2 separate regions of the Homo sapiens genome follow, and region 1 is linked to region 2. The links come from fine-mapping of genetic effects on plasma protein levels. A gene starts in region 2. The other region holds a variant in brackets. All regions are shown on one strand. Distances are between the middles of the regions. Region 1 overlaps MDGA1 (MAM domain containing glycosylphosphatidylinositol anchor 1). Region 2 holds the start of MDGA1 (MAM domain containing glycosylphosphatidylinositol anchor 1).

The links. A credible set is the group of variants that fine-mapping cannot tell apart. PIP is the chance, under the fine-mapping model, that this variant and not a neighbour inherited with it causes the effect. The UK Biobank Pharma Proteomics Project read protein levels with antibody pairs (Olink). The fine-mapping took linkage between variants from a reference panel, not from the people measured, so its PIPs are less certain.
Region 1: its variant is the best candidate, but not a certain one, in a credible set for the plasma level of the MDGA1 protein (UK Biobank, PIP 0.55).

What each region holds. Positions count from the first base shown.
Region 1 is chr6:37,668,437-37,676,760 of GRCh38, reverse strand. The region is part of intron 1 of MDGA1 (MAM domain containing glycosylphosphatidylinositol anchor 1); the gene reads left to right. Among named protein-coding and RNA genes, the nearest start is that of MDGA1, 25 kb to the left of the region's middle. The variant CCT/T (reference allele first, on the strand shown) is at 3,860.
Region 2 is chr6:37,694,003-37,702,326 of GRCh38, reverse strand. MDGA1 (MAM domain containing glycosylphosphatidylinositol anchor 1) reads left to right here and starts at 4,444. Exons shown (of 17, transcript NM_153487.4): 1 at 4,444-5,582. The coding sequence starts at 5,516. RefSeq lists silencers at 3,333-3,402, 3,423-3,492, 4,359-4,488, 4,509-4,578, 4,639-4,768 and 3 more and enhancers at 5,091-5,820, 5,821-6,550.

The DNA of each region.
Region 1 (8,324 bases), 26 kb after region 2:
CACCCCCAGCTAATTTTGTATTTTTAGTAGAGTTGGGGTTTCACCATGTTGGCCAGGCTGGTCTTGAACTCCTGACCTCCAGTAATCTACCAGCCTTGCCTCCCAAAGTGCTGGGATTACAAGCATGAGCCATCATGCTGGGCCAGGTTTGGTTGCTTTTCTACTGCACTCTGTGGAAAGGACTCCCCTGCCACCTACCTCCATCCATGCTTATGTGAGGGCTCAGGGTCCCCAGATGCCCACTGCAGCCCAAATCCAGTGCCTTAGCCTCATTTTCTCCCTTTGGCCCCTACATTCAGGCCTGTGCCAGAACCCCAAGCTGAGCCTACTTGAGAGTTGGGGTTTAGCTCTGTGGGCCTTGGAGAGAGCCATGTTCCATCCCTTTGCCTCACTGGGCTTTTTGATCAGGTGGTGCTTTGGGGGCTCCTTGCTTTAGCAAAGCCACTGCCATCCCCACTTCCTGGCCCAGGCTCTGCCTTCTGGTTTGGAGGCCTGGATCTGGCAGTGTGTCTCCGGTCCTACCCTGGTGGTGCCCTATCCCTAGCGACTGTGCCACAGACTCCTAGAGACTGGGGCCTATCAGGATTCACCCTGGAACAGGAGGACCTTCTCAGAGCAGACACACTCATGAGTCTGGTTTTATGTCAGCCCCTTCTAACTGTACTTCTAGCGTATCTACTAGGCAGCATGCACTATGCGCAGGGCATTCCATTCTCAGTGGGTCTCACATTCACAATAGGGAGCCCTGTTATGTCCATTCTCTAGTTAGGAAGCTGAGGCTGTAGACTAGATGGGTAAATGATTTGCCTCAAGTCACCCAGAAATTACTGTTTCCGTGGGCTTGGTTCAATAGGTATGCTTTGACAGGTGCAGGCTTGTCAGATCTAGACCCTGGGCTGCTGCCAGGGACCAGTGCCAAGTGAACCACAGTGATGGGGTCTCCAAGACCAGCAGAGCTTGGTGGGGCTAGAACTTTCCTTTCTGGGATCCAGGCAAGGAAATTTTACATGAGTAACAATGAGTAACCCTGTGTCCATGGGTCCCACATCACTGGGCCAGGAAGGCTCAGACCTTGGGATCCTAGGAGTCATTCTCTGCCCTGATGGGTGGAAGCTTCTCTTTTCCATCATCTTACATATTCTCACAGGGAGAGCTTTTCCTCCCAGTGATTATTACTACTTTCAGCCCACCTTAATGTTCTGATCTCTCAGGATTACAAACTCCTGGAAATCCTTCAAAGTAGACCTCATTCGGTTTCACATTTTTTTCTTGCAAGACTTTGGAATAGGTTCCCAAAGCATCCTGGGCTATATTATTAAGTGGAAATGGAACTGAAATTTATTAAGTACCTGCTGAGTACAAGTCACTGTGTGATGTACCCGATGTGCATTGTCTCATCGAATCCTCACAACAACCCAAAAGTTATCTCCATTGAAGCCTGAGATGTAGTACTATCCCCATTTTGCAGATGAAGAAACTGAGGCTAAAGGAGGTTAAACAACTTTCCCAAGGTCACTTGGTCACTGAGTAAAAGGTAGCGCACTCCTCCCTACCCCTCACCCTATGCCGTTGAGCAGCCCTCTCAGATTTGCATTTAAAGCCTCTGATCAAGCAGTGCCCAACTTGTCCTGCCTTTACTGATTGGAGATGACCTGTGTCCCCTCATCATTAACAGTTTTTTGTTGTTGCTGTTTTTGCTTTTTTGAGATGTAGTCTCTCTCTGTCGCCCAGGCTGGAGTGCAATGGCACGATCTCGGCCCACTGCAACCTCCACCTCCCAGGTTCAAGTGATTCTCCCGCCTCAGCCTCCCAAGTAGCTGGGATTACAGGCGCCTGCCACCACACTCAGCTAATTTTTTGTATTTTTAGTAGAGACGAGGTTTCACCATGTTGGCCAGGCTGGTTTCGAACTCCTGATCTCTAATGATCCGCCTGCCTCAGCCTCCCAAAGTGCTAGGATTACAGGTGTGAGCCGCCGTGCCCAGCAATCATTAGCAGTTTTAATCCTGGCATCCTGGGACCCACCAGGAGAAAGTCCCTTTATAGTTTTCATCAGGAGACCTAAAAGTCCTCATTAAAGGGCTTTCCTGGTGGCCTGTCCAGACACCCTCTAGTTCTATAAGTGGGTGTGCAGATTAGACTTCCATTGATAGACAGTGAAGATTCTATGAGCATCACCTGCCACTTTCAATACCTGTGTGCCTTCCAATGAGACCAGGATGTGGGCGCAGTGGTGCTGAACATCCCCAGGGAATGGGACATAATGGACCAGCCGCCACTTGCAGCAGAGGAGAGTTGTAAGGGTGCCAGCCTCTCCCAGAAGCTCCAGGCGCCACAGTGGCAGGCTCTGCAAATGGAACAAGGCCCTGCAAACTGTAGCAGGCTTGCATCTGACTATGAAAGCAGACCTTGTTTTTGCATTCAATTGTGGTGGCGGGGTGGCGGCCTGCACACTGATCCTTTCAGCTGTGGCTGGTTGCTGTATTCAGTGACAGCGCCCTTGTACCCGGAGGTCAGAGACACATGCACTCTGGTTAGGGAGAGATTTTTGCAGCCAAAGGGAAGGTTGGCTGAATATGGGTTTGGTTTTGATGAGCAGAAAAGGCCCTGTGTCGGGGAACAGGCTTTAATATGGTTTGCAGCAGGGAGAGGGCAGAGGTTCTTTGCCCAGAAGGGCTATGCCTCATTTGGCTCTGTGTCCCAGCACTGAGGGCAGGAGATTTCACATAATAGGTGCTCAGAAAATGTTACAGAGCCAATTAATGAATCAATGGCAAATTAAAAGGTGATTGTGTGTGCCCTTTGAGGGACTGGGAGGACAGGGAGCGAGAGGGAGGATGGGAAGGAAATGGACTCGAACATGAGTCTAATGATCGGAGAGAGAATGACCAGAACTGGATGGGCCAAAAGTCTGTTGCTGCTTTCCCTCAAGATGCTCTGCGTTCAGGCAAGGCTGGAGGAGATGGTGTGAGTGGGTTTGGGCTGTTTCAAGTCGGCTTTCCTAGCACAGAACTGGAGCCTCCCCCAGCCTCAGAGCACCTCCGAGAAGTCACCTGGTCCACCCCCGGCTGGTGGTGAACAGAGGACAGGCTCCAGCCAGCTCTGCAGAGAGCGGGGCTGTGGTAAGGGCAGAGCAACTCCCGATGCAGTGAGCACAGAAGGGCAGGGCTAATTTTCCCAAGAGGCCCACGCTTGATGGCTCACAGTCTGTAGAGAGGCTTGGAACATCATCCCTGGCAGAAGGAGGCCCAGGCGGAGCAGGCCAGGTGCCTGCCCAGGAAAGCCTCCTCCCAGGCCCCCGACCGCCATTCTCTGAGCAGCTAATTAAAAGAGAAAAGCCTGTTAATATTTCAGCACTATTAACTCCACTAAATTATTAAGTGTTCATTTGCATTACATGCATAAAAGGATCAATAAACACTTGCATACCAGGATCTGGGAGGGCGAGAGGTGTCACGGCGAGGGAGGGACGGTTTCTGAGGATGCTGCACAGCATCGGTCCCACCAGGAATGTGGAGGCTCCGTGCTGAGCTGTGAGCCCTGCACTGGGCTAGGCACTTGCGAAGTGGAAATGCATGGCGGTTAGCATGAAAGACGGAGAGTCAGACAGACTCCAGACCAATGGGGTGTCCTTGGGTAACTTATATAACCTCGCTGAACCTCAGCTTCCTCATCTGAAAAGTCCGAACCATAGTAGGCTTGTTAGGAGCAATAAATATGATAAAAGATATAAAGCACTGAATATATTGCTGGCAGAGTAAATGTCAATAAAGGGTAGCTATTGCAGTTAATGTTATATTATGGGGATGGGGGGTGGGGGGAGACCTGAGACAGCACTAGTCTCTAGTTCACAGCAATC[CCT/T]CCCTGCTCCCTCTCTGCCTCTCAGTGGGCCTTTATAAGCATCGTTCTTATTCAGCTTTTCTAGCTACTGCTTCCCTAGTGCAGAGCCTGAGTGCCACAGCTCTCTGTTACCTCAGAACCAAGCTTAGCACCTCATACTGATAAGGGCTTGTTGAATGACTGTCTGATGGAAGCCAGGACCAGAACACAGATCCCAATTCTGTACCACTCCATCCAGAACACTCAGTGATGCTTCTGGGAGGTGGCTGGGGTGGTGGCACCTGCTCTGTCATCTGTGGGCAGATAGAACCAACTCTGGGCGGGGAATTTTGCAGCCACTCCTTCTCCTTTTGTCTCCTTGCCCCTTCCTCACCCTGTTCTTTGGTCATTTCCCAGCCTGCAGACTCTTTCCCTGAAGGAGCCAGAAGCAGGAAGAGGGCAACAGTCCTCTTCATTGATTATTGGCTGAGCTTTTGTTTTTTTGATAGGGGTCTTGCTCTGTCGCCCAGGCTGGAGTGCAGTGTGCAATCATGGCTCACTGCAGCCTCGATCTCCTGAGCTCAAGCAATCCTCCCTCTTAGCTAGGATTACAGGCATGTGGCACCATGCCCAGCTCATTAAAATTTTTTTTTTTTAGAGATGGGGTCTTGCTATGATGCCCAGGCTGGTCTTGAACCCCTAGCCTCAGGCAATTCTCCTGCCTCAGCTTCCCAAAATGTTGGGATTACAAGCATGAGGCACTGTGCCCGGCCTGAAGGAACTTTTTTTTTTTCTTTTTTTTAGATGGAGTCTCACTCTGTCACCCAGGTTGGAGTGCAGTGATATGATCTCAGCTCACTGCAGTCTCCACCTCCTGAGCTCAAGCCATTCTCCCACCTCAGCCTCCCGAGTAACTGGGAACACAGGTGTGCACCACCATGCTGGCTAAGTTTTTATATTTTTGGTAGAGATGGGGTTTCACCATGTTGCCCAGGCTGGTCTCGAACTCCTGAGCTCAAGTGATCCTCCTACGTTGGCCTCCCAAAGTGCTGGGATTATAGGCCTGAAGGTGCTTTTAATCAAGGTTTTCCATTTGTCTTGCTGTCTGTCTTGTTTGGCCCTCACCCTAGTGTTGTATCCACATGCATTTTATAGCACCCCTACCTGTGGCTATAGCAGCTGGGCATGGATTCTCTTATGGGGGATGGGGGTCTTTGATGAAATTCCCCCATTACAGTGAGAATTCTCTTTGGACCCTTAGTTGGCAGGTTGGAGTTTGTCTTAGTCTGACTCCCTGAGAGTTTGTGGCTTCCTCACTGGGCCTACTGGGTGCTGGAAGCCCCTACCCATAACTATACATTTTGGGTGTATAATTTTTGGGGAGGAAAAGAGTAAGCTGATAGGCCAGCAGCATTCTGCCTCGGCTGTGCTCATTAGGATGCTGCCCCAAGGGTGACATGTCTCAGGCCACTTGGCTGTTCTTAACTAAGGGACTGGGGAGGGGCATGTTAACCCCTCAGCTGTCAGTTTTGTATTAAGCTTTTCTCCACTAATTTTACAGAACATTGCTGTCTCTCAGGATGTTGTGCTCTGCGAAGAAGGGGGTTTATGGCCAATACGTTTAGAAAGCACTGAGTTAAACCAAGTTACACAGATGTGTTTACTGCAGGACTTTTCAGAGCCTTCAATAATATACTTTGTGTGCTAAGTCTTTCTCAGAGAGGGCGAGAGAAAGAACATGCAGCATCCTTAATTGACAGTGAAAATCGTCTGTGATGGACTATCAGTGAACACTCTGTGGCACACAGGTTGGCAGAGGCTGTTTTCCTTTTCCATGGGGTTTTGTTGATAGAAATCAGGAGAGTAAAATAGGAAAGTGTCATAGACCAGAGGCAAGGAAGCACACTTGGTTCTGAAATGCTGTTCAGTTTTCTATCCACTAATATGGTGTCAAGCAAAGATGATCAAATCCAGCCATGCCTCTGAAATTCCTGGGGACAATGAACAGAGTCCCAAGTTAGCAGGTGGAAGGCCTGGGTTTGAGTCTCGGCTGTGCTGCTGTCTCAGTGAGTGACTTGGACAAGACGGTTCCTCTTCCAGGCATTGGTCTCCTTCTCTGCCAATGGAGCTAAATATGACTTTCCCTTTCTGCTTCGCAGAACTGAGGCAAGGAGCTTGGAAATATACAGTGGACCCCAGGAAGGTACCAACCCTCATCATCTGTGACAGAGAAGGCAGGGTCCTTTCATGCAAACGGCTTGCAGGCTGCAGGGGATGTGAATTCTTGAGAGGAGTGCAGGATCATTTATAGAATAATAATGCTGGCTGACATTTTTAGATTGCATACTGCGTACCAGGCACTGTTTTAAACACTTTACATGAGTTTCTTTATTTATTCCTCACAACAACCCCATTTTGCAAATGAGAAAACTAAGGCTTAAGTAACTTGCTGAAAGCCACACAGCCAAGTGCACTAGTACCATGAGAAGGGGGATGCTCGGGGAAGGGCTCCAGCCCTTCCCACTTTCCATCCCCTCTGAAGCCCTGCACAGCCCTCAGCATGAATTTTGAACATGTTCATGAAACATCCCTACCCGTTTAATGTCTGCTTTGAGCATTTCCACCCCTGGGTTGCATGTGTACGGGTGCATAGCAGGTGGTCCCCTTTCTCTATCTCTTGCTCCTATTTCATCATCTTGGGAGCTGTCATTTATGGAGACAGCACATACTATTTGGTCAGGTGTTTTACATATATTGCATTAGCCCCTCATTAGCAGCCCTGGGAGAAGGCATCATTGTTCTTATTTTATAAATGAAGAGGCTGAGGCTCAGAGAGGTTAAGTAATTTGCTCAGCATCACACAGCATCACCCAGCTAGTGGGTAGCAGAGCCAGGAATGGGCCCCAGATTGTGTGACTCCACAGCTGTGCTGTTTCCATCTCTCTAAAGCAGACCTTTCCTCTCCCCATGGTTCCTTATCACATCTCCCTGTTTTCGAGTCATCATAGCATTTAACACTCTGAAATCACCCTGTCCATTTCTGTTTCCTTTTTTGCTATCCATCTCCCCAGCAATGCTCTTTGAGAGCCATCTCTTGTTTGCTTTTCATGACAGTATCTCCAGTGCCCAGCACAGTGCCTGGCCCAGAAGCATTTATTGTTCGACAGATTGAGTGAAAGGATCGTGTCATGGTGTATCTTGAAACAGCCCTGCCTGGGTTGCCTTCCGAATCAGGAGATGCTGCTGCAGGCAGTGCCTTCCTAGGGTATGTGGAGCTGGATGGAGGCTGAGGTTCAGTGGGGCAGGGACCCTTTGGGGTTCAGGGTCAGAAACATGGTTCTGGCCATTCCAAGGGTGACCTGAGCCAATGGGAGGCTGACTCATGTTAAAGAAACTCAGTGGGGGGTGATGAGCAAATTGAAAAGCCAAGGCCAAGGGGCACTAGGTAATGTACTACTAGTGAGGACTCATTTCAGAAGGAAAACTGTACCTGGAACCAAATCAGCAATGGGAAGTGCCTCATCAAGTAACAGTGAGAATAAAGGGAGTTGGGTAACTATAATAGTAAATGGGTTATCCTGGATAATCTCAATGGTTAATATCATCCCAGGACAGTGGATGCTGTTTTCTAAAAACTGAGGTGTAATTTAGAAGGTATAATATGGTGAAGTCCAAAGCAGATACCTTGATGTGTTTTTGTGTATCCAGACACTGTGCAAACACCACTCAGATCAAAATGTCCAACATTTCCATCTCACCAGATGGGATCTCTTCTTCTCCCCAAGAAAGTTCTCTTGGCCAGGTGTAGTGGCTCATGCCTGTAATCCCAGCACTTTGGGAGGCCGAGGAGGGTGGATCACGAGGTCAGGAGTTCGAGACCAGCCTGGCCAACACGGTGAAAACCCGTCTCTACTAAAAATACAAAAATTACCTGGGCGTGGTGGCAGACACCTGTAATCCCAGCTACTCGGGAGGCTGAGGCAGGAGAATTGCTTGAACCCAGGAGGCAGAGGTTGCAGTGAACTGAGATCGTGCCACTGTACTCCAGCCTGGGCGACAGAGCTAGACTCCGTCTCAAAAAAGAAAGAGAGAGAGAGAGAGAAAGAGAGAAAAAGTTAGTTCTCTTGTGCCCTTCCCAGCAAATAATCTCCCACCCCACCCAAGGGCAATCGGTGTTAGGCCTCTGTTACCCTAAGATTAGTTCTTCCAGTTTTAAGTTTTGAATAAATGAAATCACACACTATTCTTTTTATTTTCTGTCTTTAGCATTACAGTTCACTGTATGTTTGTGTCTGGGTTCTTTCACTCAAATTGCGCCTGTGAGATTCAACAGTGTCATGTCTATCTATAGTTCACCTTTTTCACTTAACGGGGAATATTCCTTTGTATGAAGATACCAGAACTTATTTACTCATAGAATTCTTGATGGATGACACATAGGTTGTTCTTGTTTTTAGCAATTGCAAATAAAGCCACTGTGAATATCTTTGTACTTATTGTTTGGT
Region 2 (8,324 bases):
GATCTCAGCTCCTCCTACTCTCCCCTCACCTTCTCAGCTGCAGCCACGTCCTCCTCACCACCGCAAGGCCTTTTGTCCTCGCCATCCCCTCTCTCTGCAATGTCCTCCCCCTAGATACTGGCATGGTTCGGTCCCTCTAATCTTAAAGGTCATGACTGAAATGTTAGTGGGGTCCTTCTGGGTACCTTCTCTGACAGTTCAGCTCTTACATTTCCTACTCCTTTCCCTAGCTTTAGTGTTCTCCTTCATACCCTGTACTATCCAAATACCGTATTTTCCCCATTTGTGTAGTCTATTGTCTGTCTCTTCGCTAGACTATAGCCTCCATGAAGGCAGGGATTCTTGTCTGATTTATTTACATTGAGTCTGCTGTGCCTAGGGCAGTGCCTGGCACATAGTAAGCACTCATTAAATATTTGTTAAATGAATGAATGGTGAACATATAGACAAGGTCCCTGCTCCCATGCAGCCTGCATTCTACCAACAGAAGGTCTGCTGGGGGTGTGGGATGAGGAGGGGGGTGGTGTGGGCTACAAACCGTGAGTGACATGCATCTTCAGGGCCCCTTTTCTCCACGGGTATCATGGTGGGATTGCATTCTCACCAGTCTTGAGCCACCACAGTTTATAATAGGAGTTAACTGCCTGCTAATTAGCAGCTGAAGCCATTAATTGGCTATTTGTTAGAGCCCGAATTAATAAACTGGTCTTTCAGCGGGGTCATAACTCTCCCGTTCCTCACCCCTCCCAGTCATCCTTCCCCCACATGACCAGAAAGCGTCTTGCAATGAGATTGAATCAATACCTGCCACTGTATGATTTTCAGAGACAATTTCTCTCACAAGGCGACAACACCATCTAGCAAAGACTCTTCCTCTCTCTCTCTTTCTTTCTCTCCTCTTCCAGGCTGTCACTCGCCGGAGGCGAGCTAGTGGCAGGAGGAGATGGGAGAGCTTTCTAGTAACATGCTCTCACAACAAACCGCAGTTGCCCTGCTTGCTCAATGCCTGGAGCCCCTGGTTCCCTGGCCCCTGGCTTGTGGTCAGCAACGAGTTCCTGAAACCTCCTGGGGCCCAAGTGCTAGGTTTTCTTTGAGGCAAATATATATATATATATATATATATATATATATATATATACACACACACATATATATATATATATTTTTTTTTCTAGTGGGAAGTGACCTAGAATGATCTTGAGTGGAACCGAAGACTTGGCAGCTGGGTGCTGACCACCAAGCCTCCAGATAGCCTGACCTCAGGCTCATCCTGTGCCCTATGGCCCATGTCAGGTCTAGCAGTCTAGCTCTCATGTCCCCCCTGCCCTTGGTGCAATTTGGGGGCCAGAGTATTGTTCTCTGTGTCTGTAAAGGGAACAGGAAACAGTTCTTGTGGAAACATTATTTGATACCTAGGCCCTTGCCCCTCTTCAGTATAGAACAGTGGGAGAGGGCAAGGTCGCCGAGCCAAGCTACTGAGGTCAAAGCTCAGTTTGGCCCCTTAGCAGCTGAGTGAGTCACTACATCTTCCTATGTCATTCCATGAGAATAACAGCCCTGTCTTACATAATGGTTATGAAGATTAAATAGTTAATACAGTGCCTGGCATGTGGTGTCAGCTGTTATTCTTATTACTCCACTTCTCTCTAGGAAGACAGGGATCTTACCTAGTTTACATCTGGGGAAACTGAGGCCTAGAGAGGTTAGGACTGGGACGCAGGACTGATGTCTAGGGCTCTTTCCCTTCTCTGAGGTTGCCTCCCATTGTCAGACACTGGGCTGTGTTGAGGCAGCAGGCAGGGCACACTTGGGGGAGGAGACAGCTGAATTTACAGACACACACAAACAGGCTGTCAAGGTATTTACACTGCATACAATTAGCTGCAGAGTATTCACAAGTGGATTAGCTACAGCAAATGTTCAATCCCAGCCTGGCTAACTTGGTCCTCTGTTCCCCCCACCCCGCCATCATGAACCTTCTTTCTCCTCCAGGCTAGTGTGTGAGTTTAGAGAGGGCAAAGTCAAGAGAATGTCAGCTGAGTCAGTGCAGTTCTCTGTCCCCAGTAACTCACCCCAAAGCCAAAGAGGAGCAATTGACTGCTGTTTGGTGTTGGAACAGCTAATTGGAAAATCAGAGCGCAGTTTCGCACGACATGGAGAAGTACACATTCAGCTCAGAATGGGCAAAGCCAGGAAGAGCCACAGTCGCTGTGATCACTCCCTGAGAGCTTCCTGGAAGGGGTAGAGACTTCCAGGAACCCTCTAATAATGGGAAGAGGATGACAATAGAAGAAGCTATCCCTCATCACTCCCTCAATTGGCACCACTTCCTTTTCTGACTGGATGGGGGAGGCGGGAAGAGGCATGGTGGCTGTGTATCTCTGTGGGACAGAAAATGAATTTTTTGCCTTTGAGGTAACAGTCCGGGGCTGGGGAGTGAAAGGATGGCTACCCTGAGGGTATCCCAGGTCTGTGATATCTGGCCATGATGGGCATCATTCGTGAATTCACTGAACATGTCTGCAGCTGGCATCTGCTGGGAGCACCGCACTGAGTCTGGACTTCCTATCAGCCTTGGACCCACGGGGTAGAAAGGAGAGAAAAGACGGAAGAGGGCACAAGGGAGGCGCAAACGAGTGGAGGTGGGCTAGAGAATAGGAATCTTCGGATGTTCTCGGGCTTCCTGAGATGGACAGAAAGGGGGCTGAGAAAGGAAGGTGGAACCCCCCCATGCCACCAGGCACTTCCCGACACCTCCCGCTCCTCTTCCAGCAGTCAGGAGCGCGCGCTCCGGTGGGGCTTAAGCCCTGGAGAGTCAAGGGAGGAGAGACCCAGCAGGAAATGGGCCTGGGGAAGGGACGGTTCATTATTATTATTTTAAAAAAATTTATGTTTCAATTTATATGCAGACTAACCTTTTTGGAGTGTGGAGATCTTTGAGTTTTGACAAATGCATAGAGCCGTGGAACCACCATCAAGATATTGAGCAGTTCCAGGGGGCGAAGGGAGGGGGGGTTCGTAGTCTCCCCGCTTGTTAGCTGCTGCGATTGTCTGCGCTCCCACGGGCCGACCTAAAACAATTCTTGCGCACACGCTGAGATAAATAACGGCGACAGGTGGAGCAGGTGAGATTAGCAGGACCCGGGTTGGGCGCGGGGCGGGATCGGAGGCGCGGGGGAGGCCACCAGCCTCGCTTGCCAGCCTACGCCCCTCCCCGCGGGCGTTTGGGAGGAGCGTTCTCCGCACTCCTGCTCCGCGAGGGCCCCTTCGAGGCGGCTGAGACCCGAGTGCCGGACTCCCGCCGCTGGAGCGGGGCTCGGGTTCGGCAGCCGGAAGGAGGTGTGCCCCCGGGGCGCTTGGGGGCGCCTGAGGTCCCGAGGGGAGGCAAGATGGGAAGAGTGGCTAGCCGAGGAAAATGTGGGGTGACTTAGGGAAGCTCTGGCGGAGGGGTCGTGCGAGCAAACCTGTTGGCAACCTGTGGGCCGCGGCAAGGGCAGGAGCTCTCAGCGCGACCTCTCCGCCAGCTGCTCCGGCCCGGCCCCAGCACCAGACGCCTGGAAAGGGGCGGGGGCCTCTCGAGCCGGGCAGACAGCCTTGCAGACCCACAGCCGCGGCCCGTCTCGCGCGGCTGCAGGACCCCAGGAACCGCAGGCGCCCGGCCTTTCCCTAGGACCCCCGCTTCAGTCCCGCCTCCCCAAAGTGCAAAACATTTACGAAGTGTGCAGTGCCCTGCGGGCATGGGTCTCCGAAGCGAGCGGCCGTGTTTGCCCCGCGGGCTGCTGGCAACGGTGCACCCGGCTCGGCCAGCTAGTCTGGGTGTGCAAGGCTGGAGAACAGCGAGTGTGCGAGCGCGCGGCTGCAGAGCCCCCGCCGAAACCCAGGTCCCTCCGCCACTGTCCTCGGGATAGATGGATCCATTTCTGCTTTCTGACATTTTCCTGCTGGGCGGGGTTGGGGGGGAATGTTAGGGGGCGGAGAGAGGAAGAGAGAGAGAGGGAGAGGAGAAAGGGAAAGAGAGGAGAGGAGAGGAAGGGAGAGAGAGCGAGAGGGAGAGAGAGAGGAGAGAGAGAAGAGAGAGAGAGGAGAGAGAGAGAAAGAGAGAGAGAGAGAGAGAGAGAGAGAGAGAGAGAGAGAGAGAGAGAGAGAAAGAGAAAGAGAAAGAGAAAGAGAAAGGCAGGCAGTCAGCTTCCCCCAGCCCTGTTTTGTTTTCTCTAATTGGTCCTGGGGGAGGCGAGGAAATTGGACAGAGGCTGGGCCAGGCGAGCTGGGCTGCCTTTAATTGGCTCCTTTTTTTAACTGGAGGGGAATCAAACAGGAGAGCGAGCGACAACGGGTGGGAGAGCGAGAGACCGAACGAGGAGACGCGAGGAGGAGGGAGGAGGAAGAGAGGGAGGGAGGCGGGAGGAGCGCGGAATGAAAAGCTCGGAGGGGCGAAAAAGCAGCACAGCAAAGCCCAAGTTGCTGAGCGAGCGGAGCGCTCCCGCGGCCCGGAGCCGAGCGGCCGCCGCGCCCCGGAGCCCGGCCCGGCCCCGCCCGCTCTGGGCCCCCGCAGGCCAAGGCCGCCGGGCGGGGGCGGGGACGACCAACTTGGGGCGCGGCGTAGCCCCGCTCTCCCGAGAGCTCGGAGCCCGGGAGGGCTACGGCCGCGGCCAGACGGCGGGAGAGGAGCGCGGCGAGCGGAGGCGGCGAGCGGCGCCCGCGCCGCAGCCCCGGCCTGGGCGAGAGCGCGAATATTTTTCAAAAGACTCAAACTTTCCTCCTTTCCCCGTTTTCTGGGGCCCTTCTTGCCTGGAATTGCTCTCCAGATTCCCGCGGGGCGCCGGGCTGCTATTCTTCCCCCGGGTTTATCGGCGGCTCGGCTAACTTCACGGACCCGGGGACCCGCGGCGCTCGTCCCTCGGCCGAACCCAGCCCGCGCTGCTCCCCGGATCAGGAGGGCCGGGCCCGGGGCTGCTTCGCCGCCGCGAGTGCTTTCAGCCCGGCCCCCTGGAGTCGGGCCGCTGAGCCCACGGCAGCGGCCGCAGGACTGGAAACAGCAGATTGATTAACTCGAGCGGAGCCCCGGCCTCCCCGACTCCGCTCCGCTGAGGGGCGGCCCCAGTGCGGGGAAACGACAAGTTTGTCAGTCGTCCGTGGCCTGTTGGATCGAAGCGCCGCCTCCGCCGCCGAGAGGTCCCCGGCGCCTAGCATCCCGCGCGGACGGCCCTGGGTACCCGGGGCGGCTCGGCGGCCGGGCTCCTCGGGTCGGGGCGCTGGCTGCTGTGCCGGGCGCGCCGAGGCACCCGGGGCTGGGCCAGCGCCCCCTGCGTCCCCACGCGGGCAGCGGCCCCGCCGGAGGAGAAACACGGGTCGCCGCCACCTCCGCCTCTTCAGTCTCCTGGTCTTCGTCGCCGCTCTCTCTCTCACCTCTCAGGGAAAGGGGGGGACATAGGGGCGTCGCGGGGCCCCGGCGAATGCGCCCCCCGCCGCCTCTCGGGCTGCGCCGCCTCGCGGGGATGAAGCACCGGCCGTGAAGATGGAGGTGACCTGCCTTCTACTTCTGGCGCTGATCCCCTTCCACTGCCGGGGACAAGGAGTCTACGGTAAGAGCCCGCGTCCCGCTCCACCTTGGCTTAACCTCGCGCGGAAACTTTGCAAGAGGCGCAAAGTGCGCGCTGCCGGGGTTTGGTGGAGACCTCGACTCGGACTCTGGAGTGGATGCCCGCGTCCCCGCCCTCTCCAGGGCGCGTGGAGACCGAGCTAGCTGCTTCGGAACACAGGGGCCGGTCGTAGGGTCTGGTGGGAAGCCGGGATGTCAGGAGGAGGCACCCACTTTCCCACACCCTGCTAGAGGTGGGAATGATTAGGAACCCTTGAGAGCACCCGGTCGGCTCGGGAGACCCGGACAGACCCAGTCTAGGACTGGTGCAGCGACTTGCACCGAAACCTCGTCCTGGCTCGGCCTCCGGAGTGGAAGCCAAGCGATGCATGAGCCGGAGTTGCCGCGCGGCTTGCGGGCGAGCCGGCTGTCAGCACCAAGGCCGGGCGGCGGGCTCGCCTTCCCCGCTGTTGCTGCGGCTTCGCTTCTTCTACTCAGGGCTTGACACCCTGATCAGGATGCCGGCATCCCCTGGCCCTGGCGCCTTCGACCCCGGCATCCCTTTTCGGACCTTCCCTGAACCAGTTCTTCCTGTCCCCGGTTCTTGGCTACAAACCCCAACCCCACCTTCCTTCCTGCGCGCACACACAGATACATTCAGCCACCATCCCCAGAAAACGCAAACACGGCACGCACCCACCGGGATACGTGTCCAAACTCTGCCTCCTGCCACGCAGCCTTGCTCCTGCGTCCGCACGCCTCGCTGTGGTTACCAAGGGAGACTCTGGTTACCCCTTCCCCCTTCCATCCTGTGGGTTTTCCCAGGGAAGGCCCGGGGCAGGCATCATCCATTCAGTCACCTGGGCTCAGCCTCCCGCAGTGCCTTAACCCCACAGCACAAAAAATCATTCTCAGGGGCCCAGTGGCCCTTACTTTGCTTTCTCTTTACTGCAGGATGGTTTGTCCAGGTCCCTTTTTAGTGATGTGTGGCTGGGGCGGGCAGGATTCTCTCTTTCCTTTTCTGTTGGGTGGAGGGACTAATGATTCCTCTTTTAGATCCAGGGGAGGTTGACCTGTTCTTTGTGGGGTAGTATAGGCACTGACTACTGGTTGCCAGCCTCAGGTGCTGAGGCTAAAGCACCCTGGAGGGTGCTGACCCATCTGCCTGTGCCTGGCAAGAAGAAGGGGTGTCCTGAAGGGTGTCTGAGAGGTGACATGCTCCTGGCCCTGCCCAGCTAGCTGGCTTGGCCTTAATTCTCTGGTAAGACTAGCCCAGGCATCTGGCCAAACTCTGCTTCTTAATTAGTTTGTGTGTCTCTTACTGCCTGGCCCCTCACAGAGGCCAGGAAAGGCAGGAAAGAATGCAGCAGGGACTGGGAGAGGCTGGGTTTGGGGCGAGGAGGCCACGGGGCAGGTACTGGAGGCCTTGGCCTCTCCAGGGCAGATGAAGATGCCAGTGGACTGGGGTTTCACTTTCTTCTTTCTCCCCAGGTCAAGGTGCCTAAGAGAGGTGCTGCTGAGGTCTTTGCCTTCTCACCACAGCCCCGGGGCTGGGGAGGGTGATGGAGAGCCCTTCCTGCATGCTGCTGTCCTCCACTCTACCCTCCTTCCCTGTGTCATTGGGTGCATTTGGCAAGACCCACTCCTGGTCATCCCTGTCCTCCATCCCCTCCAGCTTCTCCAGCCTTCTCTAGGCTGCTTGGGGCTCATCTTTGGGAGGTTCCTCTGTTCCTAGTCTAGTAAACCCAGCAATGAGAGTGGGGTTTGGAGTCAGGGGCAGTGGTCTCTGTGGACCCTCATTTCAGAGTACTCTAGGGCCAGGATTCAGCCATAGGCTTATCTATACCCTTTTCTCTCTGTGTTTTCTCCCCTCCCGCCTGTGCCTAGGTCCCATTTGCTCTCACTCAGAGCCAATCAAAGTGGGCTGGGTGTGCTGGGGCCGACCCTGGGCCCTTGGGTGACATGCCACTTTTCCTTTGAGAGCTTGGCTTCAGGCAGTGTTGGGGCTTCAGGGAAATTGCTGGGTAAAAAGTCTTTATTGAGGTGGATGAAGGCAGAAGATTTAGGAGGAGGAGGAGGAGGATGACAGGAGGTCGCTGAGTTCCTTGTGATGCTAGAATCTTTGGCCAGATACAGCAGAAGGGAGGATCTCTGTAGGACCAGGACTGGCTTAAGAAGTAGGTCGAAGATCTGGGACTAGTTCTTCTGCCCCCCTCCCCAGCAGTCTTTCTGTACCCGCGAAGCAGAAGAAACAGCATGAGAGTGAAGGCGGCACATAGGGACCAGGGATGGCCACTCCAGCCTGGCATTGCATCCAGCATCCAGCATGGTCCCCGGCACAACAGCAGGAGCTAGGCAGGTATTTGTTGAATGAAGAAAGGGCTATAGTTGGGGGCAGGTTGGAAATTCTTTCTCCATGAGAAGTCTCTCTAGGACTTGGTTTCCAGCAGGGCAGTGGGGGCATTGTTTAAGGGTCTCTGCTTAGGGCGAGTCACAGAGTCCTATCCTGCAGCCCTAGAAGAGAGAAGAGGCTGGAAGCCTAGTATTGCCCTGGCACTGGGGAGGGAGGCAGCAGGTCTAATTCAAGACATAGGAGAAAAATGTATATCCTGGGGAGGAATCCCCTGCCCCTGCCCCTCTGCCCCCAGACCTGTGTGGATAAGGGAGGGGCTGAACAGAGGGGAGGAAGACGAGCAGGCGGTGGAGAGCGAACCTGACGGCATTCGGCCTAGGCTGTGTGTCTCTG